Linked DNA regions of Homo sapiens. The protein of the gene in region 4 interacts with the protein of the main gene of each other region in a biochemical or structural test. Each region holds a gene or a part of one and is shown on either strand. Other genes may lie near its edges.

Region 1 (9,010 bases), on a different chromosome or scaffold from region 4:
GACCCAGGTAGAGTTAAGGCTGAGAGGGCAGAGGCAAGGTCCCAGGGAGGCCAGTTTCAGCTCAATGGGAGGATTTTCTCACTGTTAAAGGAGCTGCTTTCGCCAGTAGTGAGCACTTTGTCCCTGGAGGTGTGTGTCTAAGTAGGGCTAATTACTGAGCATGTCCTGAGTTGGGCAGTGTGATTCCTGGGGTATCTTCCAGCCCTGTTAGGACACACAACAACCAAAGTGGTCCCTGGGCTCCAGTAACTCAGAGTCAGAAGGAGGTGATGCCAGTCGCGGTGGCTCGTGCCTGTAATCCCAGCACTCTGGGAGACTGAAACAGGAGAATTGCTCAAGCCCAGGAGTTCAAGACCAGCGTGGGCAACATAGTGAGACCCTGTCTCTACAAAAAAATTTTTTTAAAAAAAGGAGGTGATGTGATGGAGAGTTTGGAGGACTTCTTGTCCCCAGTGAGCTCGGAGCTTTGAGTCAGGGAGCCTGGACCTGTGACTTGGTGAGGCCCCAGGGATTAGGCCAACCACAGGTCTGGGGTACCTGGCCCTGGGGCTGCTGCCTAGTCATTTCTGACTCAATTTTCCCAACTTTGCAGCCCGAGGAGGCAGAGAGAGTGAAGGCCCAGGTTCAGGCCCTGGGGCTGGCTGAAGCCCAGCCTATGGCTGTGGTACAGTCAGTGCCCGGGGCACACCCCGTGCCAGTGTACGCCTTCTCCATCAAAGGCCCTTCCTATGGAGAGGTAAGGTTCTCCCCAGCCCCAGCCTTCCCTCCTGAAGGCCTGAGTTCCACCAGGAAAGTGAGCTGGCACTGGGGTGGGAATCCAGGCCTTCATCAGATCAGCTCTTTGTGGGAAAGTGTTTGCTCAACGCCTTCTCTGTGCTCTCCCCTGTTCTTGGCTGCATGGTCAGGGAGCTTCCCATAAGCATGGCCCACTCCCAGCCCAGCAGGGGTGCTGAGACACTCAGGGTTGTCAGAGGCCAGCAGAGACTGGTGGACAGCAGATAGTACCAGCTTGGGAAGGCTTCCTGTCTGAAGAGAGACGTAATCTGCGTGGTTGAGAGCAGAGGAGAGGGGACAGCAGGAGCAAAAGGGTGGCCACAAGTCCCTGGCAGTCAGGGCAGGCTCTGCCCACTCACCCCTGCAGGCACCTGACCTGGCTCTGTGACTCCCTCTATGCAGGATGTCTCCAATACAACGACAGCCCAGAAGAGGAAGTGCAGCCAGACCCAGTGCCCCAGGAAGGTCATCAAGATGGAGTCTGAGGAGGGGAAGGAGGCAAGGTTGGCTCGGAGCTCCCCGGAGCAGCCCAGGCCCAGCACCTCCAAGGCAGTCTCACCACCCCACCTGGATGGACCGCCTAGCCCCAGGAGCCCCGTCATAGGAAGTGAGGTCTTCCTGCCCAACAGCAACCACGTGGCCAGTGGCGCCGGGGAGGCAGGTAGGGAGGTGGGTAGGGCAGTGGCCTGGGTGCTGCCCGCCAGGGTCTGGGCGGTGCCCCTCTTCTGTATTTTGGCCCCATCCAGAAAGCCCAAAGCCAACAGGAGTCCCTTATTCCCACTGAATAAGATAGGGAAAGTTCACAGTGTGCGTGGGGGTGAGAGTGGACACAGTTTACCATGTGTTTTGCCATGATTGAGGTGTGGGGAGCCTGACAGGCTAAAATGCACAGTTCTATGAGTCCTTTCTCCCAAACACTACTGTGCCTTTGCACAGGGCAGGTCTCCACAAGAAGTTTGTTGGCTGATGCCTAGCATACTCCCAGAGAGGGCTTGGGCATACCATAACAGGAAACTGGACTCCCCATGACCTTAACTCTGCTCTCTCAGTCTACACCCATCATTTCCCCAAGTGTTTCTGCAAAGGCCACCTACCTAAGTATCTCATTTGTCAGAGTTATCTTCTATGAACACTGCCAGGCAGGTAGTCAGTTGGGCAGGAGTTGAGGTCAACCCAGAGGAATCTGGAACAAGAGAGTTCTAAGGATCTGCTTCACCCAGAGTACAGCTTTGTTCCTCATTCTGACTGAGCCCTAGCCTTGGTCACACACTGAGCACTGACTGATATTCCTTACCCACAAATGCTATTGGTAATCGATGGGTTTTGATTAACTAAATGAAGCGTCTTTTAACTCTAGACATCCCAGCTCATGGAGCTGAGAATGGGGACAGTGTGCTTCTTTAGGATTGCAGAAGGTTCCAGACCAGGTAGCAGTTGTCAGGCCTCCTGTACAGGGGGCAAATTCTGAATTCTGGGCAGATAACTTAATTGAATATTCATAGATAAGGCACAGCAAGAAATTATGGAAACCCATTTGTGAATTACTCAAATCCAAATGCAAAGCAGAGTCACATTGGCACACACAGTGGCTGTTCCCGTCCCCCTGCAGGGCATCCGTTTCCCCCAGCCGACTGGCCTGCAAGGATTCCCATAGGTGCACACCCACACCCCTCCCAGCATGCATCCTAGGCAGTTCATAATGCATCTCCCCTTCCCCGTTTCAGAGGAACGCGTTGTGGTGATCAGCAGCTCGGAAGACTCAGATGCCGAAAACTCGGTGAGTGGCCCAGAAGTTCAGCCCAGGACTCCTGCCTCCCCCCATTTCAGGTCCCAGGGGGCACAGCCACAGCAGGTGACTCTCAGACTTGCCTTGCGCCTGGGGAATTTTCCAGTGAGGCATTGAGTCCCAAGCTGTGCTGAGGACAGTCTCCAAATGACAGCTGCATGCCTGGACCACCCCAGCCCTCCCACTACACCAGGGCCAGGAGCTCTTCTGAAATGCTGATAGCATGTGTCCAGAGCCCTGTCTCTTTTCTGGAATGTCCAAGACCTTTGTCTGGAGCTTCCTTATGCATTTTCTGTCCTCTAAGTCCTCAGTGAGGAGGGCTGGACAAGAATCCATTCCTTGGTTTATTACAGCCAGTGGGGGCCAGTGAAGGGGTGTCAGGCCACAGGGCAGCTATATAGGGGCCAAACAAGTGAGGTTTGACTCCATCCATGTAGAAAGATATATAAATCCATTCCACAGTGAAACAGGTGGCCTCGTGGGTAGTGACCCTTCTGTCCCTAGAGGTTTATTACTAGAGGCTGGACTATCACCTGTCCAGGGGAAAAGGGGATCTGAATAGAGTGAAAGGTTGGACTGGGTGGCCCCTGAGGTCTCTTCCAGCCCTCAGTCTGAGGTTCTGTATTGGAAAGTGCATGGAGCCCATGGAGACCGCCGAGCCACAGTCCTCGCCAGCCCACTCCTCGCCAGCCCACTCCTCGCCAGCCCACTCCTCGCCAGTCCAGTCTCTGCTGAGAGCACAAGGAGCCTCCAGCCTGCCCTGTGGCACATACCACCCCCCAGCTTGGCCTCCCCACCAGCCCGCTGAGCAGGCTGCCACCCCCGATGCTGAGCCTCACAGCGAGCCTCCTGATCACCAGGAGCGCCCTGCCGTCCACCGTGGGATCCGCTACCTGTTGTACAGAGCACAGAGAGCCATCCGCCTTCGCCATGCCCTCCGCTTGCACCCTCAATTGCATCGGGCCCCTATTCGGACTTGGTCTCCCCATGTGGTCCAAGCCAGCACTCCTGCCATCACAGGGCCCCTCAACCATCCTGCCAATGCCCAGGAACATCCTGCCCAGCTGCAAAGGGGCATCAGCCCACCCCACCGGATACGAGGGGCTGTGCGATCCCGCAGCCGCTCCCTCCGGGGCTCCTCCCATTTATCCCAGTGGCTCAACAACTTTTTTGCCCTCCCCTTCTCCTCCATGGCTTCCCAGCTTGACATGTCTTCCGTGGTGGGGGCAGGGGAAAGCAGAGCCCAGACTCTTGGAGCAGGTGTTCCCCCTGGGGACTCTGTCAGAGGCTCCATGGAGGCCTCTCAAGTCCAAGTGCCTCTGGAAGCCTCTCCAATTACATTCCCACCACCCTGTGCCCCAGAAAGGCCCCCCATCAGCCCAGTCCCAGGCGCCCGTCAAGCAGGCCTCTGAGAGTGCTACCCTTCTCTTGTAACCTTGCAGCCAACACCCCTGCCCGGCCCCTGAGCTGCCTCCTCCAGCCCATGCTCTTACAGGCCCTGCACAGAGTAGCACTCATTAATTCTTGGTTAAGGAATGAATCAACGAATGAATGGCTATGCATGGACCTCTGGGCAGGGAGACCTGGGTCTTCTCTGGCTGAGAGGGGAAGGCTAAGGCATGGCTGAGATTCAAGCCACCATTCCAGGCCTCTTTGCCCAAGAAAGAAACTTCTGTCACCCTTGCACTCTCCTGTATTCTGAGTCCCTGGCCAATAGCACAGCCTTCCATGCCCCGACCCCCACCCCAAGCCTCTCCACTAGGCCTCTGCCAGGATCTAAGCCCATGAGCACAGGGACTGGCTATCCCAAGACCTGGCAGATGTGGCTGCTCAATAAACACTTGTTGAACCATCACCCTTGCGAACCCTTATTCCACGACCATCGCGTTCTCCGATGGATCCAGCTCCTCCCTGCAGGCTGTTCTCTCTTCCCTATGCTGGAACTCAGTTCTCCTCTGGGGATACCATGTCCCCTCTTCCTCCCACACTCATGGGCATCAGAGGTGGGAGGTAGGGTCAAGGCCCCCTGCTTCCTGGACTGTTCCAGCCCCTTCCTGGCCGTCTGGTAAGATCCTCTGTCCCTCTCAGGGTGGGCCCCATGCTCCCCAGCTCATCCCAGACACCCACCTGCCCACCCTCATTGAGGGCAGACGTGAGCATTCACCTCCCAGATTTCTTCTCCCTGCTCAGGTCCTGCCTTCCTCCTGAGTGACTTCTATTTCCACCCACCTGCCCGCCACTCCTTAACCTCTCAGGGGTTGTCACCCCATTCCCCCAGACAGCTGCCTGCCCCGTGGCCGTGCCCTGCACCTTGCCATCACCGAGCACTGTCGGTCCCTCAGCCGGTCCTCTCAGACTCTGACCGCAGCCTCCTGTTCCTTGAGCTCTCAGTCCTACCTTCGCCTCCCTCCAGCCCCGCGCACTCCCCATTTCATCCCATCTTTCATCAGAATTGCAGCTCCCTGCCCAGCAGAAAATCCTGGAAGGACTCAGGAGCTTGTCGCCTCTGTGCTGCCACCTGGAGACCGAGATCTGCAGGAGAAAGGCCTGGGAAAACTATGAGTGGTTGCCTGTGACTGCTAAGGGCTCCTTGGTGCTCCGCCCAGCATGTCCTTTTGCTCTGCAGGGCAGCCCCCGCCTGCCTTTCTTCACTGGGCCCTTGTCCCAGCCTCACCCTCAGCTGATGGCGGCACCTTCTGCTCCAGGGAGAAAACAGGAGCTCTCCAATGGCATAGGGACAGTTGACATCTTGCTATTTACAGATCCCCATCGCACCCCTTCCCTGCCCTCGTTAGGGTGGAAGGGATGTCCACCTGCCTCCAGGACTCACCCTGTGTCCTGGCCCCAGCCCTTGACCCCCTGGGAGCCTCACTCCTCCTCCTCATCTCTCTTGCATCTTCTAATGTATCCACTGCCTTCTGAACTAAACACCCTGAATGAGGTCTTTCTCATCTCAGAAAACTCCACCCACTTCTCTCTCCAGCTGTCGGCTCCCCTTCCTCTGCTCTCCTTGTTTACACTTCAGCCCCCTCCTTGCCCCTTCTTCACCCCACCTCCTGCGCTTCCCCGCCAGTACCAGGGTGGCCTCTGTGCCTCTAGGTGCAGTGTCGCGTTTAGTCGTTATTATTCTTGACCGGCGCTGGGCCCGGTCTTTCCTGGAAAGATCGCCTGCTCGGATGCAGCTCTGGGCACTCCTCCCTCTCCTCTGCAGGCTCTGTTTTTTCTTGGTTGTGGTGCTCCTGCAGGTTTGCTGCTGGGCCCTTTCCTCTTTTCAGTCTGTGTATTCTCCCAGGTGCTCTCAGCCACGCCCCTGACTTCAGTTACTGCCCAGGGGTAGCTGATACCCAACACTCGCACCTGCCTGCCAGACCAGCATGGCCAGTGACCTTCCAACAGCTCCGCATGGATGCCCATAGGTACCTCAAACTCAGCACCTTCTCCTCCCGTCTCACTGGCTCGCCCCACTCTCTGCCCGGTTGCACAAGCCAAGACCCCATAGCCACCCAGGGCACCCCCCTTTTGATTATTCCTCACATCCAACCAGTTATTGAGTCTTGTCTTTCTAGGGTGTAAATTCCTCTGAAATCTGGGCACTTCTTTCCATCCCATAATCTTGGTAAAATTAAAGCTACCACTGACCCTGGGTAGAGGCAGAAGCCTGGGAAGGAAAGGTGGAGAACAGGTTTGGAGTGCCAACAGTGTCCCCAGATGTCATGGAGAATCAAGTAGAGGGACCCCAGCAATATTGGGGGTGGGGCGGGGAGTATGTAATGCTCAGCTATCAGCAAGGAGTCATTAGGGGCTATACAGTGAATTAAGGGAGGGGGTAAAAGCACATTTCAGGTGATGATGAATTAAATACCTAGGAGCTCACATTAGAGAGCAGGCCTAGAGACGTGGGGAGAGAGCCAGAGGACCGCTGCTTTTGTGTATGTAGCTTTAAGACACAGGTTTTAAAAATTGTTATAGGAGTCCCAAACTTTAGAAAATATATATTTTAAAACCCCAACAAATTAGGTCCCCCCTATGCATTTCTCACCCAACTTCTGGGCCCTTTCCAGACCCCTGGTGCCCCCAGAGTACACCCAGCACCACCACTGCAAATTCCTACTCCCCAGCTTGGAGGGGGTGGGGTGATATTCCCAAGGTGATCCCGGCTCCCACCTAACCCATCCTCCCCAGCTCTGCAGCTTATATCCAGCTTTGCAGTGAGGAAAGTTGCAGAATACTGGTCTGCTACATTACTACTTTCCAAGTGTATCAGGGCATTTAGGAACCCCTCCCTTGAGCTTCACCTGTGTCCTAGGGATTCAGTGAGAGACTGTTTGTGCAAGAAGGAGCGAGAGGCAGCAGGGCATAGTCATGGGGTGGAGCAGTGAGTCCCCCAGGCCTGGTTGTGGAGTACCTGGGGTGAGGACTTTGCTTAAAAACTGCCAGAGTGGGTCAGCAGTGCGCCTGCCCTGGGGCCCCTGCTTTAGGATCCAAAGTGGAAAAGATAGGTGTTTTCACCCACTCTTGTGACAGATTACTGGCTCCGGTGCCTTGGTGGCAGCAGCAACAGGAGGGGGCCAAGGTGAGGGGGCAGCCTGTGGCAGAAGTGGCAGTGGTGACGGCGGAGGAAGGGAGGCCTGTGGGGAATGGCTGATCCAGGGGAGGGGCCGTGGCACTGGTGAGTGTGCATCTGAGAAAATGAAACGGAGGTGCTGGCCAAGAGGCTGGAGCTAGGCAGAAGGGCAGCAGAGGCCACAGGCTGGCCGAGTTTATGGTCCAGTTCACTCATAACATGTGCAGTATTCCTGGGGTCTTTGAGGCTTTGCAAGAGCTGGGGTTTTGTGTCTGCAGAAAGATAGCAATGCATGTGTCTTGCCAAACTGATCCCAGCTGTAGCTGATGCTTAAGTGCTCAGAAAGTTCTTCAGGAGCTTGAGGGCTCTTGATAAGCATGAATGTCAGATGTTCTGTATCTTCCAGAGGCTGGATGCTGACTATCAGAGTTTGGCTTGTGTTTGGCTGATGAGCAAACCTGGAATGAATCAGTGATAAGGACAATTGTTCTCAAGCTGGCTGTACACTGGGGAGTTTTCCCAACTACAGATTCCTAGGTCCTACGCCCTGAGATTCTAATCGAATCAGTCTTGGGTGCAGCCTGGGCCTCAGTTTTTTCTTAAAGCTATGAATGCCTAACCAAAGTCAAGAACCACTGAATCGGGGGATTCATTGCATGTCTGTGGTAGAGGAATGCTGCTCATTTGTTTATAGATGTGGCAGTCTTGAATGCAGGTGACATTTTCATACCAGGGTGTAATACCGCAGAGGAGGGGAGAGGCTGGATCTTCCCTGATGTACCTCCTGGACTTTTGGAGTGTGATTACAATGCCAATCCAGCCACTTCCTCTGAGCATGCTTGGGACGACTGTTAGACCTGCTGTGTTGAGTTAGAATGCACTTGACCTGCTCAGGCCGTGAAATCTATGAGGAAGGGGAGTGAGATGGATGTAGCTCATGAGCCAGATTGCAGGTGTATCCAAGTTGCATGTATATCCTGAAAAAATCCTGGCTCTCACGAGGCTCAGCCTGAACACAGTTTTGCATTCAAAGAAACAATGTCCATTAACCAAGTATAATAAAGAAATAAATCCCAGTATTTACTTGCATCTTTTGAAAGAACATTAAAGGGAATCCAGCTCATAACCCCAGCAGCACTTCTTCAGTCCTTCTTCCCCTTTTCTTTGGCGCCTGGCATCTCTCACTGCATAGCAAAGCTTTCCCCCTTGATTCCCGGTCCTCACACGCAGGCTCAAGGCTCTGTTTCCCATCTTCTTTCTTCTGTCCCCCTTCCTTTTCTCTTCCAAGCAAATCTAAGTCTTTTCCAGTGACTGTCCCTCTCTATGCTCCCCCGACACCCAGTTATCCTAATTTGCGGAATAAGGCCAAGGTGTGGGGCCTGGGGGCAGAATGGGAGAGTCTCCCCTAGTGAGCAGGGAGGGGAGTATGTTCTGCACCAGGCCACTATGTCTGATGGCCCTGCTGGCAAACCTGAGTCTTTCAGAAAGTCTTGTTTAAATGCGTCAGCACTCCCCAGCTGTGATGCTGGAGTTTAAGGCGGAGCAGGGGAGAATTCTGGGTTTACAGCTGGCTGGAGTTCCAGTGAGACCAGCTCCATGGGTGGCCATACTTTATGGAAGTCCCCAAGGGCAAGAGGAATTTTGGAGGAAGTGAGTCAGGGCTGAAAGGTCCAGCCTCTCCTCCATTAACAAGCTTGGTGGAAAGGGGGTGTCCTTTTATTAAAGGAGACAGTAGAGGTTTCTTAGAGAAGGCAGCTCGAGTAAGTTTAGGACAAAGGACATTTCCCTGGCCCCGGGACAATGGAAGGCTCTAAAAACGAGGTTCTAGTGGCTGCCATAAATGACCCTGCTGTAACGATGGGAGGGGTGGCCTAAAGAGACAGTAC
Region 2 (9,010 bases), on a different chromosome or scaffold from region 4:
CTTAATTCTCCACTACTGCCTCTCAGTTAAGTTCCAGTAATGAAGATCTGCTTTTATTTCCCAGAATATGCTATGCTGTGTCATACCTCTTTGCCTTTATACATTCTGATCCTTCTGTCTGGATGTCCCTTTCTCTCTCTGTCTACTTGGTAAGCTCTTATTTTGCTTCCTTTTCTTTCTTTCTTTTTTTTTTTTTTTTTTTTTTTTTTGTGACAGAGTCTTGCTCTATCATCCAGGCTGGAGTGCAGTGGCACAATCTCTGCTCACTGCAACCTCCGCCTCCCGGGTTCAAGTGATTCTCGTGCCTTACCCTCCAGGGTAGCTGGGATTACAGGCATATGCCACCACACCCAGCTAATTTTTGTATTTTTAGTGGAGATTGGGTTTCACCATGTTGGCCAAGCTGGTCTCGAACTCCTGACCTCCGGTGTTCCACCCACCTCAGCCTCCCAAAGTGCTGGGATTACAGGCATGAGCCACTGTGCCTGGCCTTAATTTTGCTTTTCAAAATCTCATCCAGGTGTTATTTTTTTTTTCTCAGAAGATTTCTTTGACTTTGCCAGATAATGTTAGTTTTTCCCTCCATCCTTCTACCTTGTTTGTTACTAATACTTTTGTATCTGTCACCCATTGCTGGTCATAGTGCTTGGCATATGATGGGTGCTCAGTAAATAAATCTTTGTTAAACAAATGAATTTCCTAGATAGCCTGAAGTGCTCTCTTGAGTAGCCCAAGTACTTATTCCTCCCCCGCTTTTTTTTAATGCTTTCATCTATTGAAAGGCACAGTCGAAAGAACACAGTCTTTGGAATTGGACAGATAAGATTTCTAATCCTAGCCTTTCAAGAGAAATTATCTTTTTGAACCTCCTTTTTCATTTCTGTACAGTATGAGTAATAATTCTTTTTTATATATTATGTTGAGGTTTAAATAGTATAGGGATTTTCATTAGGCTTAACTAATACATAAAACATCTAGAGCAGAGTTTTACATGTAGAGCACTAAGTATGTGCTCAAAAACATTTGCAGTTATTATTACTATATGCCTCAATTATATGAGAAATAATGCATCTCTTTGGAAAAGCAGATTTTCCCTGCATTTTGTTTTCCGGAGCCAGTGGATACCTTGATCCATTGAAGAAAACTGCTTGTCCCTACATTACTTGTTTATTCAAGAAATACTATATGGCTGGGCATGGTGGCTCATGCCTGTAATCCTAGCACTTTGGGAAGGCCAAGGTGGATGGATCACCGGAGGTCATGAGTTCGAGACCAGCCTGGCCAACATGGTGAAACCTCGTCTCTACTAAAATAAAAATAAAAAAAAGAAAAAATTAGCCAGGTGTGGTGGCGGGTGCCTGTAATCCCAGCTACTCAGGAGGCTGAGGCAGGAGAATCTCTTGAACCCGAGAGGTGGAGGTTGCAGTGAGCCGAGATTGTGCCACTGTACTCCAGCCTGGGCAACAGAGTGAGAGTCAAAAAACAAACAAACAACACTAAATGCCTACTCTGTGCCAAGCACTATTCTAGTTGCAGATCATTTTTTTTTTTTTAAGAGACAGAATCTCACTATGTTGCCCAGGCTGGTCTTGAACTCTTGGCTCAAGCGATTCTCCCACCTCAGCGTCCTAAAGCACTGGGATTACAGGAATGAGCCACCATGCCTGGCCTCTGATCCAGGTCTCTTAACTCCCAATTTGATGCTCTGTTTACTTGTTCTCTATATTTAATAGTTTTCTTTGGAAAAGTGTTCACTCTTCTTCTTTGTGTTTCTGTGATAGATCCTGCCTAGTTAGGAGTTTGGAGATAAGGAAGTTTGAGAAAAACAAGAGGCTCTAGGACAATTAATCATGTCTGTGGCTCTGCTCAGCATATCACTTGGGTTGTCAGCAGAGCCACATGGACCTAGAATTGGCCTGTCATCTTTGGAAGGAAGTTGTGTTGCTGATTCTCTGCTTTGGCTCATTGGCTTGTTAGCCATTTGATGTAGATTATTTTGTGTGTGGGGATTTTTAATAAATCTTTCAATCTGAGTCATTTGGGAAGAGCAATGTTCTAGCTTAATGTATTATTTTGAGAAGTGATGTCCTCTTTCACGTAATGTTGGTCTCATGCAAGTAGGGAGCTATGCCAAATGTAGTATCTCTGCTGAACTTTGGGTCACCTTTTTAACTAATATGTATCCATATGATTTTAACTAATATGTATGCATAAGGATTGTGTCTCCTTAATTCCTAGTTACAATTATTTTATGTCATTTAGATTCCTTTTACTTATTCCATACTTGTAAAGCACTCATATAAACAATTTAAATGATTGTTTTTATTGATGAAAATATTTTAATTTTCTCATAAGCCTCCTGCTCATTTGTCAAATTTTTCTTTTCCTACCCATAGTTCTACTTTCTTCCAGGCAGAGCTGTGGATCAAAGAATTGTAAGTTATTTTTGGTATCATTTTTCCTTCTCAATCAGTTCATTTTTAGTTAGAAGAAATCAAACAATTAGCTAATCATCCTGCTTATTTTTTGCCAATAAGAAGTACCTGTTTAGGCTGGGCGCGGTGGCTCACGCCTGTAATTCCAGCATTTTGGGAGGCTGAGGCAGGTGGATCATCTGAGGTCAGGAGTTCAAGACCAGCCTGGCCTTCATGGTGAAACCTCATCTCTACTAAAAATACAAAAATTGGCTGGGCATGGTGGCACGCGCCTGTAATCCTAGCTACTTGGAAGGCTGAGGCGGGAGGATTGCTTGAACCTGGGAGGTGGAGGTTGCAGTGAGCCGAGATCACGCCACTGCACTCCAGCCTGGGCAACAGAGTAAGACTCCATCTCAAAAAAAAAAAAAAAGAAGTGCCTGTTTATACTTTTAAGTTGTTGGGTTTTCAAAATATTGTTGGAGTTGGAACATTTCTATACTTATGTTTATTAAATCTATAACAATTGTTGAAGCTAAATTAAATTGGAAAAATAGAGTTAGCTATTATATAATAGGGAAAATAAATGATCCTATTTTGGCATTTGTAAAACTAATTTATTGAATAATTCATATTTCTGGACTTTGCAAAATCACTGAAAGCATTTAGTCTCACTTAAGGAACTTAAGTTATCCAAACCCCTCGGTCTCGGTAATTTTTTAAAAATCTATCAAAAATGAAGTATTTGAATTAAACTTCAGTGATATCTTGTATTCGTTTCTCCTTTAGGGTTCAATCCCATTTTTGGATTTCCAGACTGAAGTTTCGCTTTCACTATAATCTTAAAAGCATGTTAAGAAAAGAACTGTGTGTTTACAAATGTTAACAAGTCATCTGTTCACATTTAGCAGCACACTAATATTTTTAGTAATTTCAGTAAAAATAGGTCGGGTGCAATGGCTCACATCTGTAATCCTAGCACTTTGAGAGGCCAAGGTAGGGGGGTCGCTTGAGCCCAGGAGTTTGAGACTAGCCCGGGCACTGTAGTGAGACCCTATCTCTATAAAAAATAATAAGTAAAAATGGTAGAGTAATTTCAGTAACATTATGTGGTTTCACTCTATGTCTTAAAATAAGGATGATAAGTTAGTGTAAGGATTTTAGACTTTCTTTGTGAGGGTCCTGTATTTAATATTCAGTGTACATCAACAATATGTTTCATAATGAGAGTGGTCTACATTTGGTCACGTTCCTTTTCATTTTCTAGAACTAGTGTTTATGATTCTCGAGCACGAGAAAGATTGCGCCAGATTGAAGAACAGAAGGCATTGGCCTTACAGCTTCAAAACCAGGTAAAAAAGAAAATTGGAATAATATTACAAATAAATAGTACATCAAAGTAGAAACTATTTTGGAAAGTTACCCAGATTTGGGTAATTGCTGTTGTAATTCCAAGATCGTATGGTAGCATAGCATGTTATGATATGTCGTAAATGTTCTTGGTCTGTCCAGTCAGTGCTACTCATTGTACATAAGACAAATATAGATAGTCCCCTACTTGTGATGGTTCGACTAATGATTTTTTGACTTTACAAAAAAGCGAAAGCAATGGGCATTTAAGCACGCTCTTTGACTTATGACAGGTTTATTGGGACATAACCCTATCATAAATCAAGGAACATCCACAGATTTCTTTATCCCACTTACTCTGAAGTTTTATCTTTCAGAGATTGCAGGAGCGGGAACATTCAGTACATGATTCAGTAGAACTACATCTTCGTGTACCTCTTGAAAAGGAGATTCCTGTTACTGTTGTCCAAGAAACACAAAAAAAAGGTCATAAATTAACTGATAGTGAAGATGAATTTCCTGAAATTACAGAGGTAAGTTACATACACTTAATTTCTACACTACTAAGTATCATGTTTAGAAAGAATCCCTCGGATGAGTTTCAAACATAAAAGCAATAGTGGTCAGGCACGGTGGCTCACGCCTGTAATCCCATCACTTTGGGAGACTGAAGCGGGTGGATCACTTGAGGTTAGGAGTTCGAGACCAGCCTGGCCAACATGGTAAAACCCCATCTCTACCAAAAATACAAAAATTAGCTGGGTGTGGTGGCATGCACCTGTAATCCCAGCTACACAGGAGGCTGAGGCAGGAGAATTGCTTGAACCCGGGAGGCAGAGGTTGCAGTGAGCCGAGATCATGCCACCGTACTTCAGCCTGGGTGACAGAGCAAGACTCCATCTCACATACACACACACACAAAAAGCCATAGAACACGTGTTATTTAAATTTTCTTGTATATTTCAGCTTTCGCTTATTTTATATACCAATCTGGGCTTTATTTTTAAAATATTGAAAATTTATGAAAGAACTATGGGTGGCTTTTAACAGTTTCAGTGAAGAAGCATTTAATACATTTGTCTTTCATGTCATGTGCATTTTTACTTAATGCACACATACAATAGTTTGACCTCAAATTGTAAGCTGAGATTTGCTCTTTTTTTAAGTAATAAAACCCATTATAGAAAATTTGGAAAATACATGGAGGTCTGTGTACATTTTTAGATAATCCGTTTCTTTATCCATACTTCTCTTTGAAACACTACCATGTAGCTGGTGAGCATAACACACTTATTATAGTTGTACTGAATTCCATACTTTACATTTAAAAAAAAAGATCTCTAAGAAAGTAATTTCTAAAAGATACTGCCTTTACTCTCTTACTACCTTTTATGAAAAATTCTGTTTCTCAGGAAGTCATTTGGACCAGAGATATAAAATACAGTTAATTTTTCTCATGTGCTTAGAAAATTTGATAGCGGAAGGTTGTTCCAGACTTTAGGAATTAATATGGAAACAAGGATCTGAATGTTGTGCTGAAAAAGAGAAGGGAGGACTAGATGAAGTGGAAAGAAGTAATCGGGGATTACTGGGAAGGAATAGAAACCAAAATGTTAGAAGTAAACTGATTAACAGTAAATTTATAAACAATCGAATGGTGATAAATATAGTCTGAGGATTATATGGGGTTTGGTGAGAAATACGGTTTTTCTGAAGCCACGCGTGTTTGATGTCTTGACACCTTTTGTTTTCTTAGGAAATGGAGAAAGAAATAAAGAATGTATTTCGTAATGGGAATCAGGATGAAGTTCTCAGTGAAGCATTTCGCCTGACCATTACACGCAAAGATATTCAAACTCTAAACCATCTGAATTGGCTCAATGATGAGGTAATGTTGCATCTATTTTTACATACAAATAGTAAACATTAAGTGGCAGTTAAATTAAGGCATTATCTCACTTTTTCTCAAAATGTGGTCCATGGATGACCTGCATTGGAATCATCTCTCATAGGCCTCTTCATTCTTGTAACTATGAGGGAGTGTGGTGGAGACAGGCATTTTTAACAAACATCTCAGGTGTATTTTAAAGTCTGAGAACCACTGAATTTACCTTTTCTTGTTGAAGATTTGAACATTGAAGAAGACATTCACTCATTGGTATTCTCACTCTTTAAGGCTCCTATTCTGCAGTTCATCTCTTCTGAACAAATAAGTATTAGCCGACCATGTTGCAGCATGAGGGAATACTGTGGGATTTCTTTATAGGAATCCAGTTTTACTTCCCTTTCTACCTAAGTTCTACTCATTTTAGATCACTTATATTACGAATGACAAGCTTTCCAAAATCGCCTCCATTTATGTATGATATTTTTTAAATGGACATTGAAAAAGTTATATTATTATTAAATATTTGAGGTATTGGGGGAGAAGTTACGGTCTTCACCTCCTAACTCCAATTTATTTTAAGTATATTAATTACACTACAGTTTTTAAACTGATCTGTTCCTAAGCCTAAACCTGTAGGTACCTGTTTTATTTTAGAAGGTTATTTTTACAGCAAAAGAAAACTGGGTTGGGTATCTTTTCCTAAGTACCTTCTTTGCATAAGCATCCCTGGCTAATCTGGGTATACTCAAGCTTCACAGCTGTGGAGGATTTTTAGTTTCTCAGTGTAGTAATCATTAAATATTTTAGATATCCATATCCTGTTTTTGTATGATCAAGACCTTCCAAATAATATTTGCCAATAACTATTGATCATTTACCTCATTAGTACGATTCATGTTTTATGTGTTTTATTCTTGTAATAGTCATCATATCTTTGGAAGTAGATATGATAGTTCACCATTCTGCAGATAAAGAAACAAGGCATAGAAAGATTTAAAAACTTGCAAGGTTATACAGCTAGTAAACAGCAGAGCCAAGATTAAGACCCAAGCATTGGGTCTTATCTACTATATCTTAACTACCTCAGAATCTTAAATTGGATACTGGTCTTAGGATCAGATATATAGAACTTAGGAGCCATATATCATGTCCAGGATGCTTTTTTTCTCTGGGGCCAGCCCCATTCTTTTTGCCACTGGTTGGTTTATAAGATAAAAATTTCAGAAGCTCATCACTCCCTGAATAATATCTGTGACCAAGAATAATAAGGAAGGCATGGTTTGTTACTGTCTTTCTTTAGAAGAAACCCTCTTTGCCTCTTTTGGCTCAGATATTAGAACATTGGTTCAAATAATGGAAAAAAAGAGCTCACCAAATCAAAGGAGGAAATTAAATCAAGGATAGTTATAAGTATCCACTGATAAGTTATTTTTGATCTGTGGTCCTTTGCCATTTATTTCCTGCCATTGCTGGTGGTGCGAGGTCAGTTACTCTAAAGGGATAGTAGGCTTTAGTTTGTTGTAAATCATGGAAAACCTCCTAGAGGGCAGCAATCAGTAGGATATGAGCTGAGTTCTTGCTATTTACTGTGGCATTTACCTCAGTGAGATTCCTTACAGAGACAGCATTCATCAGGACATATTTTCCATTCCCTGGGCCCATCAGAGGCTGGATTTTTAGCAAGCTAAGTTAATGGAAATTACATTATTTTAGAGGAGATGAGAAGAAGGAAAGATTCTTTGTCTACTTTATCCCTACCACCCCTAGCCATAACTTTTGTAGAAGGAGTGCATTTCTTCTCAGTTCAGAATGATGTTATCCTTGAAAATGAGTGCCAGTTCACATGTCCATAATAATGATGGGAGCTATCTTAAAAAGCACCATTTTCAAAGTACCATACTTCGTAGGCTTTCAAAGTTACTGCCCTTGAGAAGCTAACATCCTGATGGAGTATTATTAGGTATCCTTAAGTATTGATACTCATTGAAGAATACTTAATTTTGGCCAGACACAGTGGGTCATGCCTATAATCCCAGTGCCTTGGATGGCTAAGGTGAGAGGATCACCTGAGGCCAGGAGTTCAAGAGCAGCCTGGGCAACATAGCAAGACCCGATCTCTACAAAAAAATTAAAAATTAGCCAGCCATGGTGGCATATGCCTGTAGTCCCAGCTGTTCAGGAGGCTGAAGCAGGAGGATTGCTTGAGTTTAGGAGTTTGAGTTTATAGTGAGCTATGACTGAGCCACTGTACTCTAGACTGGGTGACAGAGCAAGACTCTGTGTCTTCAAAAGAATACAAAACTTAATTCTGTTTCTCAGTTGTGAACTATCAGTCTTTTGCAAATGATTTGTCCTCTGTTCAATCCTCTTCTTCCCTCAAGTAGATATTTTCATTAATAATAATTTCTCTTCTTTTTCTGTTTCCTGCTTTATAAGATGTATTAAAACTTTCTCCAAAATAGGTGACTGATACATTGTTCTTATCATTTTATAAACAAAGTACCATACTTTGTAGGCTTTCAGAGTTAAAAAGTAATATAAGAGCAAGGAAGTAAAAGGAATCAGATTCAGTTTATAAGGAAAATAAAATCCAGAAATCCTATGTTTGGGATATGTATGGAAAGCCATTAGGATACCCTGTTCCTAAAAGAAGAGTGACCACAGTACCTATTCATACAGTAGGTTTTAAGATTTTTTTCATAAATGGATTTCTCTATAGGTCAGTTTGGTTAAATTCTGTACAACTTCAAAGGACTAATGATTGACAGGATTAATATAATAAAACGTCTCAAAAATGGAATGTGGGAACTGGCTGCCATATAAAGAATACAAAAGGAGGCAAGAAGACTGTTACAATCAAGACACCGTAGATGGGGATTTCTATACTGGGTCAGGAGATTAGTTACTAATAGAAATATCTAATTAAGGGAAGGGAGGATAGAGTTAAAGAGAGGAGAAATTACACTGGGAGCAGTGGCTCATGCCTGTAATCCGAACACTGAGAGGCTGAGGTGTAAGGATTGCTTGAGCCCAGGTTGTCAAGGCTGCAGTGAGTTATGATTGTGCAACTGCACTCTACTACAGGGTGAGTGACAGAACAAGACTCTGAGATCCTGTCTGTTTTTTAGAAAAAGGGAGAGAGGAAAAATTAGTTGCAAAAGTAGAAGTAGATTGAAGCAGTCAAGAAACAGAAGGAAATATTTTCAAATGGGTGTCATTATTAGAAACTATGTATTAATTCCTGGAGATTGAATTGGATGACTTCTGGAATCCCTTCCAACTTTAAGATTCTAGGTGTATTATCCTGAGTACTGCTTTAGGCTTTGTGTTTCTCTTTATGGCCAAATGGTTCTCCTTT
Region 3 (4,767 bases), on a different chromosome or scaffold from region 4:
TGGTGGTTCTTTCACAGACATTTCCATATACCTCATGCATTGTGGGTTAAAAAGTCCCTGCATCACTTCTGTTCTCACAGGTACTGAGCTGTCAAAAGTGCATGAAGGCCTCTCACTGTACTCTAGTCCTGACTTGGGGTGCAGAGGGCTGCTTGCAATCCTGTTTGTAAGGCTGTGCCTGCTCAGAGCTTTGGACTGTTCAACCCACACAAGAACAAACGCTAACTAATATTTTTTTTAAGAGATTCTTTTCCCTATGAATGTGGGAAATGCAGGATTTATTCTGTGAATTGTTTGTTTCTGTGTGTTTGTTCAGCGTATTCATTCACTCACTCGTTTGCAAACATAATGGGCAGTGGTCATTTACTGCTGCTCTTTTACAGTTAGCTCTAAATTACTTGTTTGAACTATTTATTTCTGAAAGGAATGTTACTCAAGCTGCCACTCCCTGCTGAAGAGCAGGAGGGAACTCTCACTGGGGGCGGAAGGAAGTGGAGCTGGAGCAGTAACTGCCAACATGAAGCTGGAGGGTTTGGGATTTTTTTTGTTTTTGTTTTTTTGAGGCTCAAAAAATGCTGGGAGAAATGAAAATGCTGTGGGATAGGGCTCCTGTTGCCTTTCAGAGGAAGTCTGACACTACAGCGTTGGCACAGTGCCGTGAACAGTGGAACTGTGCCCAAGGGACTCTGATTATCCAAGCATCTTCCGAAGAGTGTTGTGGTCACCTTAAAGAGACTTCCCCTTCTGGAAATGTGGTGACTTGGCTTAGTCTTCAAACTGGATTCATGGATTTGAAGTAACTGTAAACCCTAAATCTTCATTTTCATCCCAGATCTGGTTGAGTATAAACCTCAGAATTGTAGGGGCTGGCCTGAGCTGTTTATTTCAAAAGATACTATTCAATTTAAAGCTATTTTTCCTCAGAGTTTTTGTTTTCTATATATTAAGTCTAAATTAAGTTTTCTACTCATTAAGACTAACATCTCCCCACTCCATCCCCACTGAAATTTGTGGAAGAAAATTTAGTACTTGGCTCTGAGGTTGCCAGTTATACAATAATCTATTTTGCATATGAAAGTTTGTATTTAACTTTTTTGTTCATTAAAAACCTTACTGATATGGTTATAACTTCAGACAGTTTAGAGTTGGTCAGAACATATTTTGCAAGATCTAGTGCCTAGTGTTGCTTTTCTGATGTAATAAAAGGTGGTCTGGCAGAACCTAAAAAAGTATATGCTGAAATGATTTCTAACCCTCTCCCTACTTAAACCTCCCAGACTTGTTCTGGTTCATAAAAGCAAGAGGTAAAACTGGAAAAATTGTGCACGTGTTACCTATGAATCTACACGCCTGCCATTTGCAGTGCTCCGGCTGCTGGTCCCAGAGGTATACTGGTTACAGCTATTGCAGCCAGTTCCCTGAGACTTGTAAAACTCCTGGTTTAGGACATGGGGCCTGTGGTGTGGATGGAAAATGCTGGGCCTACTGGATGGTCAGCCAGAGGCCATGTGGTGGGTGATGACTGAAGCGGGAGCAGGTTGTACCACACCTCTCCCCCCCCCCTCCCACTCCCCCTCCCTCCCTCTCCCCTCCCCCTCCCTCCCTCCCCCCTCCCTCCCTCCCCCCCCTCCCCCTCCCTCCCCCTCCCTCTCTCCCTAACACCCACCCTCCCCCTTTCCCCCACCCTCCCCCCTTCTCCCCTTTCCCCACCCTCCCTCCCCCCTTCCCCCTCCCCCCCCCCCCCCCGCAGCCCCTGCTCCTTTCTCTGGGCTCCTGGCATTGTGCCAGTGAGTGCTGGGACCAGGTAATGAGCACAGCCAAAAAGGCCAGAGGTTCACTAGGTCAGCATCATACCAAACGCCTGGCTTTCACCAGGCATCAGTGTGCTTCACTTGAGAGTTTGGTACCATGGTTAAGATCGAGTCCATGCTAGGTAAGTCCTGTTAGGAATGTCAGTTTGTATTCCGCCCACGTGAATGATGCTGAGCTTAATGTATTATTTTGAGGGGCTTCTTCAGAGCAGTTCTCACTGAGCTTTCCATTAACCTACACTCTTCCGGACGGCTCTTAAAACTTGCAGGACATAATGAAATTGGGAAGAGCAGAGTGTTGAAGTCTATAGCATGGCCTTCTGCTTGACCCTGAGTTCCTGAATTGAATGTGGGAGACCACAGGCCATACTTCTCTAGGCACTCACATGTCTCCCTTGGCATAAGGAAACATGTTAGTAATATAGTTTTTTAGATCCAAACAGTTTATTTGGATCTAAAAGTTTAAGTGTTCAGTTGAAAAACAGCTATTGATTTTATTAGTAGCAAATTATCACCATTAAAGCCAGTGGTTTTTTTTTTGTTTTTTTTTTTTGTTTTTTTTTTTTTTTTTTGCGACAGAGTCTCTTGTCGCCCAGGCTGGAGTACAATGGTGTGATCTCAGCTCACTGCAACCTCCGCCTCCCAGGTTCAAGCGATTCTCCTGCCTCAGCCTCCTGCGTAGCTGGGATTACAGGTGCCCACCACCACACCCTGCTAATTTTTGTACTTTTAGTAGAGATGGGGTTTCGCCATGTTGGCCAGGCTGGTCTTGAACTGCTGACCTCAGGTGATCCACCCGCCTCGGCCTCCCAAAGTGCTGGTATTACAGTCATGAGCCACCTCACCCAGCCTGTTTTTGAGACGGAGTTTCACTTTTGTCGCCCAGGCTGGAGTGCAATGGCGCTATCTCAGCTCACTGCAACCCCCACCTCCCAGGTTCAAGCGATTCTCCTGCCTCAGCCTCCCGAGTAGCTGGGATTACAGGCATGTGCCACCACCCCTGGCTAATTTTGTATTTTTAGTGGAGACGGGGTTTCTCCATGTTGGTCAGGCTGGTCTTAAACTCCCGACCTCAAGTGATCTGCCCGCCTCGGCCTCCCAAAGTGCTGGGATTACAGGCGTGAGCCATTGCACCTGTCCCTGCCAGTGTGTTTTTAAAATAGTTTAGGGGGTTGAGAAAAGATGCAGTGAGCCATTATTCTCCTTTAGCAGGTAGTCTCTTAAAAATTGATGTGGATTTTAAAAATATACCATTGAGAACACGTATCTTTCTCAAACTTGACCTTGAACAGAGCTGGATGGGGGTGGGAGGGAAACAGATTTGGGGCATATGGAAGATATTCTTGGGAGCCCCATATTCTACCTCAGTTACCGAAGGCTATTAGAACCTCTGAATTTTTCCTCCTCTGAAATCCTAAGCACAACTTCAGAAAACCATGTCTGATAGCGGATGTCTTCCTGCTGTGAGGAGCTGCTTGATGTGGGGACCAAGGTGTGGGTGTGGGCGGAATGTATCCTAGTAGAAACAGTGAACCTCAGATATGAATAAATAAGCAAGAGACCGAAAGTTAAGTGTGTGACAACCTCAGTACTGTAGTTAAGCTACATTCTTTAAATTAGCTTTTGTGAACTGATTGGGAACCTAATCTCTTTTGTAACTGTTTGAGAAAAACTCTGAAGCACCTGATATTCAAACAAACTTATGGTACTTACTAACTCATTTGTAAATTGGCGATGTAGCTGGCTGTAGTATTGCTTTGATAATTTTTTTCTTTTAATTTACCTAATATATATAAGGAAGGGGTTTGGATATATTAAAATAGGTGTTAATTTTATCTATTTACCAATAAATTCATCTCTTTAATTCAGTGGCTTTCACTTGTTTTTTATTGCAACTCATAGGAATAAGTATTTTATGTTGTGACCACACACACACACACACACAGTGTGATTGTATATGGACACAAACAACATTGCACATACACTTTTGTGAAGTAATACATATCCTTACTATGATGATAGTTTTATTTCAGTTTTTAAAAACATTTAGGTTGTAACCACCAAGTTGATTTCTCTGCCCACTAATGGACAGATAATGCAGAGAAGGAAAATACTGCTCTAAGTGACCTGACCGCGAGGCAAATGATGTTTAAAACCATAAAGCCTGAGACCAAAAAATACCATATATATTATAAATGTGAGGCTGTTTTGAGATGACTCCATCTAAATCTAGGAAAACAGACTAGCAGCTTTGAGACTTTTGATGGAAATATGTGGTGGAAACAATCTTTAGGTTCTCAGATGGGCATTTCCTAAAATGTGTTAAGTAGAAGTCTTGTAACTTGTATAAAAAATATGAAATCCCAGCACTTTGGGGGCCATTGAGGCAGGAGAATTGCTTGAGCCCAGGAGTTTGAGACTAGCCTGGGCAAGATAGCAAGACCTCAGTTTTTTTTTGTTGTTGTTTTTTTTTGTTTGTTTGTTTTTAAAGGATATAAAGCAAAGGGTCTGTGGGCCAATGAATATGTGTACCATGTCCTTTCCTCCTGGGGATGTATAACAAACATCATAAGAAGTTTGATATGAACGAGTTATGTCTTAACCTAGCATTTCCCAAAACTTGGACATTGAACCCTTTTCTATGAGACACCTGTGGAACTATTTTTTGGAATACACTTCTTAGGAAAGTGCCAGGAGAAGCAACAGAGAGAGTTCTTGGCAGTATGTACTTTAAGAACACACTGGGCAACCTTACCACTCCCCTTCCACGGCCTCCCAGCAACACCCCCCTCCTCATGGTGATCATAAAGTCTGATCCCACACTACCACCCTGTCTCCTTTTATTTTTATTTAATTATATCAGTAATAGGGGTTCATAGAAAATACCGATAAGGTAAAGAAAGTTAATTCTGCAAATTCACAACCAGAGTTAATACCTCTTAACATTAACATTTGG
Region 4 (9,010 bases):
GCCCCAAAAAATGCCCAGTTTGGCAGGGGTGGTGGCTCGCACCTGTAGTCCGAGCACTTTGGGAGGCCAAGGCAGGAGGACCACTTGAGCCCAGGAGTTTGAGACCAGCCTGGGCAACATTAGGGAGACCTCGTCTCTATTACTAAAAAATGCACAAATAAATAATTTTTTTTTAGAAAAAGAAAAATGGCCAGCTTGCTAAATAAATCATAGGAACTCCCAAGAAGGATAAGTCAAGCAGGGAGAATCAAGCCAGGGAGTTAGTGTCGGGAAGGGCTTTGTTGGTCAGACGCAGTGGCTCATGCCTATAATCGCAGGGTTTTGTGAGGCTGTGGCAGGAGGAACACTCAGCTGGGAGTTGGAGACCAGCCCAGGCAATATAGTGAGATCACGTCTCTACCAAAAAAAAAAAAAAAAAAAAGCATACATATACATATACTTTTTTTTTTTTTTTTTTTTTTTTTTTTTCGGTTAACTGGATGGGCCGGGTGCCGTGGCTCACGCCTGTAATCCCAGCACTTTGGGAGGTGGGCGGATCACTTGAGGTCAGGAGTTCAAGACCAGCCTGGCCAACATGGTGAAACCCCATCTCTACTAAAAATAGAAAAATTAGCCAGGCATGGTGGTGGTTACCTTTAATCCCAGCTACTCAGGAGGCTGAGACAGGAGAATCGCTTGAACGATTCTTGCAGTGAGCCGAGATCCCACCACTGCACTCCAGCCTGGGCGACAGAGCGAGACTCTGCCTCAAAAAAAAAAAGAAAAAAAAAAATTAGCTGGATGTAGCTCCTGTGGTCCCAGCTATTTGGGAAGCTGAGGTGGGAGGATTGCTTGAGCCCAGGAGTTTGAGGCTGAAGTGAGCTATGATGGTGCCACTGTACTCCAGCCTGGGTGACAGAGCAAGGCCCTGTCTCCAAAAGCAAAAGAGTAGAGAAAGGGCTTTATGTGACCAGGGAGAGTATGAAGAGCTATGGCTGTCCCATTCCCATTCTAGTAGGTCCGAGAGCAAGCAGGGCCAGACTGCCAGGGGCCCCAATAAAGCATTGTAGGGGCCCAGGCAGTGTCACTTGGGGCCAAGGTAGTACAAAGTGGTTTTGAAGGAGTTGAAGATGAATCCAAGGATCTGAATGAGGAGGGCCAGAGCTGGTGAAGCTACGGCATTCACAGGTTTTGGGAAGGACTGGAGCCAGGTCCTGAAATTGTTGAGTGGAGGTGTCTGGGGTGTGTGCGAGTCTGGCATTCACAGGGAAGTCCGGGCCAAAGACTCCAGTGGGGGAGGCATCAGTGAATAGATGGTGCTTCAGGCCTGTCTTAGTCAGCTCAAGCTGCCACACAACAAAATATCACAGACTGGGTGGCTTAAACAACAGACATTTATATTTCAGAGTGCTGGGGGCTGGCAGTCTAGATGAGAGTGCCAGCGTGGTCAGGTTCTGGTGAGGGCTCTCTTCATGGCTTGCAGACAGCTGCCTTCTTAATACCACCGTTATGACCTCAATTAACCTTAATTAGCTCCCAAAGGTTTTATCTCCAGATACAGGCACATTGGGGCTCAGAGTTTCAATCTGTGAATTTGGAGGGACATACTTTGTCCATAGCAGAGCCCTGAGACTGAGCCCAGTCCCCTGGAGGTGAAAACCCTTTCTGGAAGGGCCACACTCCCCATCCACTACTGCCCTTCCTAGATCTCAGCTCCAGTGTCACCCCTTCTGGGCAAGGTCAGGCACCCCAGTGTGTAGCACATTGATCTGTGTGACCAAGGATGAATGGCCCTGTCTCCTGCTGGACTGTGAGCTCCAGAGGCAGGGCTACTTTGTCACCATTGTGGCCTGCCCAGGCAGGGACCTGGCAAATATTTATTGAGTAGTTGTTGGGAAGTCATGGAAACCGTGTGCTGTGCCCTTGGGTCTCACCAGAAGATCTGCTCAGGCCCAGGGCCAGGACTAGGCACTGTCCTGGCCAGGAAGGTCCCAGCTGCCCTGTGGCCTCCTGCCCTTGTCCCCCACACCCTCAGGGGTGCTGATATGCTGAATTTTAAGGAGAGATGATTCTCATATGGTTTTCTGCCCTTGGGGAGTTTATAGTCAAGTGGGACTTAGTTTCCTCAGAGGTAAGCTTAAGGGCACTGTGGCCGGGGTGGGGCAGGAGAGGGACATCTTCTCTAGCCTGGAGAAGTGAGTAGCTGAGGGTGGAGGAAGAGGGTATTCCAGGCAGGGTGCACAGCTTGGGCAAAGGCCTCGCTGCAGTAGAGGAGGACCAGGCAGTGTGTTTGAGCCTGACTTAGGTGGGGATTTGGTGGGGACTAGAACCATTAGGTGGTTTAGAGACCTCAATCCTCGACTCCATCCCACCCCTGCTTCAGCCAGCAGGTGACCCTGCTAGGGACCTGCCAGCGAGAGACCCGTTTCCTCTGAGTCCAGTCATGCTAGCTCCCTTCCTGGGGCTAGCGTGGGTGAGGGCTTCTTGCAGGGGCCCACATAGTTTTTCTCCTGAGTCCATTGGGCAGGATTGGGCCGGATTGGGCCAATCACAGAGGGATGGAGGGGTTCCCAGAGATGGGTCTGCTCTGGCCCACACTGCAGCTCACCCCTGTCCACTCTGTGCGGGGGCCACTGGGGAACTAGACGAACAGCATTCAGGTCACTGTGGCTCACAGACCCGTCGCCCCACTCCGCTCGTCCCCAGCAGCATGGAGGGAGGGAGAGCTCCCGTGCGCTAATTGGCTGAGCTATTTGGACCAATTGCTAATCAAAGGCTCCAAAGCCCTGGGTGCTGTGGTGCTGGGCTCTGAAGCTGAGGTTCACAAGGTATGGGGGACCTCAGTCTGAGCATCAGGTTGGCTCTCATTCTCAGGAGGGGACCTGGGCCACCTTCCCAACCCCCACATCTCTGTTGCCTCCTATTATCCCCGTAACCTTTCAGTCTCCATTGCCAAATGGGGGGGTTCAAGACCAGCCTGGACAACATAGTGAGACCCTGTCTTTAAAAAAAAAAAAATTACCTGTGGCCGGTGCTGGGTGCTTGGTAAGGTCACCTTGAAGCAGTCCTGTGCCCGTTCTGCACTGTTTTGTTTGTTTGTTTGGTTGGCTGGTTGGTTGGTTGGTTTTGGTGGGGTAGTGGGGTCGGGGGATGTGGTTTTTTGTTTTTGCTTTTTTTGTTTTAGAGACAGGGTCTCGCTCTATGACCCAGGCTGAAATATAGTGGCACAATCATCACTCACTGCAGCCTCTAACTTTTTGGCTCAAGTGATCCTCCCACCTGAGCCTCCCAAGTAGCTGGGACTACAGGTGCAAGCCACCAAGCCCCACTAATTTTAAAATTTTTTGTAGAGATAGGGGTCTCACTATGTTGCCCAGACTGGTCTTGAACCCCTGGCTTCAGGGGCTCCTCCTGCTTCTGCCTCTCAGAGTGCTGTGATTACAGGCGTGAGCCACCGTGCCCAGCCTCTCTGCACTGTTCTTTAACACATTTACAAATATTTACTGAGCATCTATTTCATTCTAAAGAACTAATCTTGAATAAAACCAGCCAGAATGTTTGCCTTCATTGAGCTGACAGTGCCCTTGGAGGGGTTAACTGTACATACACCTCTTTTTTCTTTTCTTTTTTTTTTTTTTTTTTGAGATGGAGTATCACTCTGTTGCCCAGGCTGGAGTGTAGTGACTCGATCTCAGCTCACTGCAACCTCCACCTCCCAAGTTCAAGTGATTCTCGTGCCTCAGCCTCCTGAGTAGCTGGAACTACAGATGTGCACCACCACACCCGGCTAATTTTTGTATTTTTAGTAGAGACGGGGTTTCACCATGTTGGCCAAGCTGGTCTTGACCTCCTGACCTCAGGTGATCTGCCCGCCTCAGCCTCCCAATGTGCTGGGATTACAGGCGTGAGCCACCGCGCCTGGCCTGTACATATAACTCTTAAAATGCTGCCCTGACCCTGGGGCTCACTTTCAAAGATGTCCACACTCTGTAGGCCAGGACCCCACCTGTCCCATACCCTTCCTGGCAGCCCTGTCCCTGCTACATCGCCCTTCAGCTACACCAGCTTTCTTTGGGTCCCTGGACCACACCTGATACCTTCCCGCCCAGAAGTGTTATCTCTGTCCTGGCAGTTGCTCAACCTTTTATGGTCCCTACCACCAAGGCCATCTGCTTGGTTGACATACCCACCCCAACTGTAATTAAATCATCCCCGGTGTCTCCTCACTAGACAGCTCCACATAAGCACAGCTGGTCCTTTTAGGGCTGTGTCCCCAGCACCTCCCACAAAGGAGGATGCAGTTCATCAGGATGGGTTGGATGAACAGCCCATTTTACAGATGAATAAACTGAGGCACAGGCAGGTGCAGGATTTTGGCAGCACTGCACACCTGTCCTGGCTTTGTCCTCCTCCCTGGGGAATGAGCTTGGAGCACCCCTCTAGGAACTGGGATGCCAGCCTCTTCCCTTGACCATCTTGGTCCTTGTCATGTGGGCCCCAGTACCAGGGGTGGCTTTAATTTGGCTGCCCAGGGAGGTGGTTCAGGGCTGCCAGGACCCCTGAAGTAGGCTCTCTGGGCTCTGTCCTTTGCCCCCCAACATGGTGCCTGTTTCTCCTGCCTCTTCATGCAGAGTGGCCAGCTCCTGGCCCATTCAGCTCTGAGTTTGAGCTCCTGGGCGGAGATTTTTGTTGCCTTGTAACTGGGATTCCTAGATCCAGCCTCCACCCTCTGATTGCCCTAAGGAGGTTTTGGGGTTTTGTTTTGTTTTGTTTGTGTTTTCGTAGGATGGTGGCAGTGATTTTGAGGAGGGGAAGAGGAAGGAAGATACAAGCAAGGGAAGTCACAGGCTGTGGTGCCTAGGCAGACCCTGGTTTGAATCTTGGCCTTACCACTTTTTGCATGTAAGTGGTAGGGGCAGCAGATAGCTCAGGACATATCTTGGGTTTTTTTGTTTGTTTTTGTTTTGAGACATAGTCTCACTCTGTTGCCCAGGCTAGAGTGCAATGGCACAATCTTGACTCACTGCAACCTCCACCCTCCCGGGTTCAAGTGATTCTCCTGCCTCAGCCTCCCGAGTAGCTGGGATTACAGGCACCGGCCACCACACCCAGCTAATTTTTGTATTTTTAATAAAGATGGAGTTTCACCGTGTTTGCCAGGCTGGTCTCGAACTCCCGACCTCAGGTGATCCACCTGACTCGGCCTCCCAAAGTGCTGGGATTGGCCAGGTGTGGTGGCTCATGCCTGTAATCCTACACTTTGGGAGGCCAAGGCAGGTGGATCATTTGAGGTCAGTAGTTCAAGACCAGCCTGGCCTATGTGGTGAAACCGCATCTCTACTACAAGTACAAAAATTAGCCGGACATGGTGGCACACGCCTGTAGGCCCAGCTACTCAGGAGGCTGAGAATCACTTGACCCTGGGAGGCGGAGGTTGCAGTGAGCCGAGATGGCACCACTGCACTCCAGCCTGGGTAACAGAGCAAGACTCTGTCTTAAAAAAAAAAAAAAAAAAAAAAGTGCTGGGATTACAGGCTTGAGTCATCCCGCCCTTCAGGACATATCTTTTGAATTTTGAACCTGGTGAATGAATTTTTAGATGACCTCAGGACAGTCCTCAATTTCCACATGACCTCAGTTTTTCCAGCTTTGCAAGGGGAGTATGAAACCAGCCCTGAAGTCTTGCTAAGAGGATTCGGGGAGCTCATAGAAGTTGTGAGTTGGTTCCTCCATTCGCCTGGGTGTTGTAAGGGGCAGGGCCTGTGTCTTGCTTGTGGCCTGCCAGGGTAGCAGCTCAGTAAGTGAGATGGTATCTCACTGTGGTTAGGATTCACATTTCCCTGATGACTAGTAATGTTTCCGTGTAATTTCTTGAATGATCATTCAGTAACAATAAGTGTAGGTTGAGTTTGTAGAATCAGGTTGACCTCCTCAGCCTCGATTTCCAAATGGAGAAAGCAGAGATTTGGAGCTCCTGGTCAGAGGAGCAGGTCGGTGCTGGAGCCAGGACTCAACCTTAGGTTGTACCTCTGAGCCTTTGAACACTTGCCGTTTCTATTCCTCACAGCAGCCCTTTCAGACGGAACGGGTGTTACCAGATTAGGAGGAGAGTGGCCACTGTATTCTCAGTGCCCAGCCCAGGGAGGCAGATCTGAGTGGAGTTGCTAATGAAACATGGAAGGTGCTTGAGAGCTAACTGGAAGGGAGGGAAGGTGTGCATTCCTGCACCAGGGCCTTTGCATGTACTTGTTACTTTCTCCTGCTGGCCAGCTGGAGTGTCTGGAAAGATCTGCCTTACTCAGGGAAGCCTTCTCACTCGCACTCTGCCCAGTTAGGACCACTGCCCTCTAGAGACCCTATAGAATTACAGAGGAGGCCGGGCGTGATAGCTCACACCTGGAATCCCAGCACTCCAGCCTGGGCGACAGAGTGAGACTCCATCTCAAAAAAAAAAAAGAAAAAAGAATAAACCCCACACACCTTTGCCTTCCCTTTGCTTTCCCTCACCACACCCCCATTCTCCCCGCCTCCCAGCCCCTGGCAACCACTAATCTGCCTCCTGTCTGCGTGGATTTGCCTGTCCTGGACATTTCCTATAAATGGATCATACAATCTGTGGTCCTTTTGTTTGGCCTCTTTCTGTTGGAATAATCTTTTCCAGGGACATCCATGTTGTAGCATGTGTCAGAATTTCCTTTCTTTTTATAGCTGAATAATATCCCATTGTATGGACTGACCATGTTTAGTTGGCCCATCCATCCGCAGATGGACGTTTGGATTGTTTCCACCTTTGGGCTATTGTGAATAATGCTGCTGTGAACGTTTGTTTACAGGTTTTCAATGCAGGCAAATGTTTTCGTTTTTCCTGGGCATAAATTCCAGGAGTGGAATCGCTGGGTCATATGGTAACTCTCTTTAACCGTTTGAGGAACCGTCAGACTGTTCTCCATGGTGGCTGTGCCATTTGACATTCCCACAAGCAGTGGAAATGGGTTCTGGATTTCTCATCCTCACCAACTTTTTTGATTCCAGCCATCCTAGTGGGTGTGAGATGGTGTCTCATTGTGGTTAGGATTTGCATTTCCCTGATGATGTTTTCTTCTAATTTCCCTGATGACTAGAGATGTTTTCATGTAAGTTATTTATTTATTTATTTATTTTTGAGACAGTGTCTCTGTCTGTATCCCAGGCTGGAGTATAGTGGCGCAATCACAGCTCACTGCAGCCTTGACCTGGGCTCAACAACAGATCCACCCCCCACCACACCCTCCCTAGTAGCTGGGACCACAGGTGTGCTCCACCATGCCGGGGTAATTTTTGTATTTTTCGTAAGAGGCAGGGTTTCACCATGCTGCCCAGGCTGGTCTCAATCTCCTAGGCTCAAGTGATCCACACGCCTTGCCCTCCCAAAGTGCTGGGATTACAGGCATGAGCCACTGCACCCAGCCTCATGCAATTTCTTTTTCCTTTTTTTTTTTTGAGACAGTCTTACTCTATGCCCCAGGCTGAAGTGCAGTGCCACAATCTCGGCTCACTGCAACCTCTGTCTCCTGGGTTCAAGTAATTATCTGGCTTCAGCCTCCCTAGTAGCTGGGACTACATACCCACACCACCTTACCTGGCTAATTTTTGTATTTTTGGTAGACAGGGTTTTGCCACGTTGGCCAAGCTGGTCTCGAACTCCTGGCCTCAAGTGATCCGCCTGCCTCAGCCTCCCAAAGTGCTGAGATTACATGAGTGAGCCACTGCGCCTGACCTCATGTAATTTCTTGAGTGGTCATTTAGTCATTATACAAACAGTGATTGAAGGGCATGTGCCCAGCACTGCAGACTCTGCTGCACAGTCAGATGACCCTGCCTTTCTGGCATTTCCATGCCAGTACCCTGAAGAGATACCATATATGTACCTGGTGCTTGCAATAGCTGGCACTCAGAGGTAGCACACTGTGTCCTAGCCACTCTTCCGAGCACTTAAGCATATTCAGTTACTCTTCAAGTACATATGAATAAGTATGCCTTTGCCCCCTCCTCTTTGCAAGGGATAGCGTGTGGCCACCCTGGTCTGCAGCTAGCTTAGCAGATTTGACCACATATTGTAAAAGTGAGTCTGTACCAGGACAGATAGGGTAGAGGGCTCTGTGTGGTTTAGCACCATGGTAGATTCCATCGTGCGGATGTCCCTCCAGCAGGGGAGGTCTTTGGGGCCAGGGCTAGGCCAGCACCCACATTTGCCGCCTGACCCCGTCCCTCCGTCTCTGTCTCTCCATTCCTCCCTGCCCCTCGTGCAGCCGCTGCCATGGCCCAGACACTGCAGATGGAGATCCCGAACTTCGGCAACAGCATCCTGGAGTGCCTCAATGAACAGCGGCTGCAGGGCCTGTACTGTGACGTGTCAGTGGTGGTCAAGGGCCATGCCTTCAAGGCCCACCGGGCCGTGCTTGCTGCCAGCAGCTCCTACTTCCGGGACCTGTTCAACAACAGCCGCAGCGCCGTGGTGGAGCTGCCGGCGGCTGTGCAGCCCCAGTCTTTCCAGCAGATCCTCAGCTTCTGCTACACGGGCCGGCTGAGCATGAACGTGGGCGACCAGTTCCTGCTCATGTACACGGCTGGCTTCCTGCAGATCCAGGAGATCATGGAGAAGGGCACCGAGTTCTTCCTCAAGGTGAGCTCCCCGAGCTGCGACTCCCAGGGCCTGCATGCGGAGGAGGCCCCATCGTCGGAGCCCCAGAGCCCCGTGGCGCAGACATCGGGCTGGCCAGCCTGTAGCACCCCGCTGCCCCTCGTGTCGCGGGTGAAGACGGAGCAGCAGGAGTCGGACTCCGTGCAGTGCATGCCCGTGGCCAAGCGGCTGTGGGACAGTGGCCAGAAGGAGGCTGGGGGCGGCGGCAATGGCAGCCGCAAGATGGCCAAGTTCTCCACGCCGGACCTGGCTGCCAACCGGCCTCACCAGCCCCCGCCACCCCAACAGGCTCCGGTGGTGGCAGCAGCCCAGCCCGCCGTGGCTGCGGGAGCAGGGCAGCCAGCCGGTGGG

What was found.
Region 1: the proteins of NACC1 (region 4) and PML form a complex in vitro, tested with the Homo sapiens proteins (one study listed by BioGRID).
Region 2: of the proteins of NACC1 (region 4) and SENP1, one has a biochemical effect on the other in vitro, tested with the Homo sapiens proteins (one study listed by BioGRID).
Region 3: of the proteins of NACC1 (region 4) and SENP2, one has a biochemical effect on the other in vitro, tested with the Homo sapiens proteins (one study listed by BioGRID).

The regions. Positions count from the first base shown.
Region 1 is NC_000015.10:74,031,980-74,040,989, forward strand, and holds part of PML (protein PML), read left to right. Parts: intron 1-592; coding exon 593-736; intron 737-1,176; coding exon 1,177-1,435; coding exon of another isoform or gene 1,436-1,443; intron 1,444-2,498; coding exon 2,499-2,551; coding exon of another isoform or gene 2,552-2,677; exon of another isoform or gene 2,678-3,192; coding exon of another isoform or gene 3,193-3,972; exon of another isoform or gene 3,973-4,027; coding exon of another isoform or gene 4,028-4,081; exon of another isoform or gene 4,082-4,415; intron 4,416-9,010.
Region 2 is NC_000012.12:48,060,352-48,069,361, reverse strand, and holds part of SENP1 (sentrin-specific protease 1), read left to right. Parts: intron 1-2,396; coding exon 2,397-2,435; intron 2,436-3,681; coding exon 3,682-3,766; intron 3,767-4,141; coding exon 4,142-4,297; intron 4,298-5,520; coding exon 5,521-5,652; intron 5,653-9,010. UniProt on the Homo sapiens protein: Protease that catalyzes two essential functions in the SUMO pathway.
Region 3 is NC_000003.12:185,629,873-185,634,639, forward strand, and holds the end of SENP2 (sentrin-specific protease 2), read left to right. Parts: 3' UTR 1-3,679; downstream 3,680-4,767. UniProt on the Homo sapiens protein: Protease that catalyzes two essential functions in the SUMO pathway.
Region 4 is NC_000019.10:13,126,933-13,135,942, forward strand, and holds part of NACC1 (nucleus accumbens-associated protein 1), read left to right. Parts: intron 1-8,267; 5' UTR 8,268-8,275; coding exon 8,276-9,010. UniProt on the Homo sapiens protein: Functions as a transcriptional repressor. Seems to function as a transcriptional corepressor in neuronal cells through recruitment of HDAC3 and HDAC4. Contributes to tumor progression, and tumor cell proliferation and survival.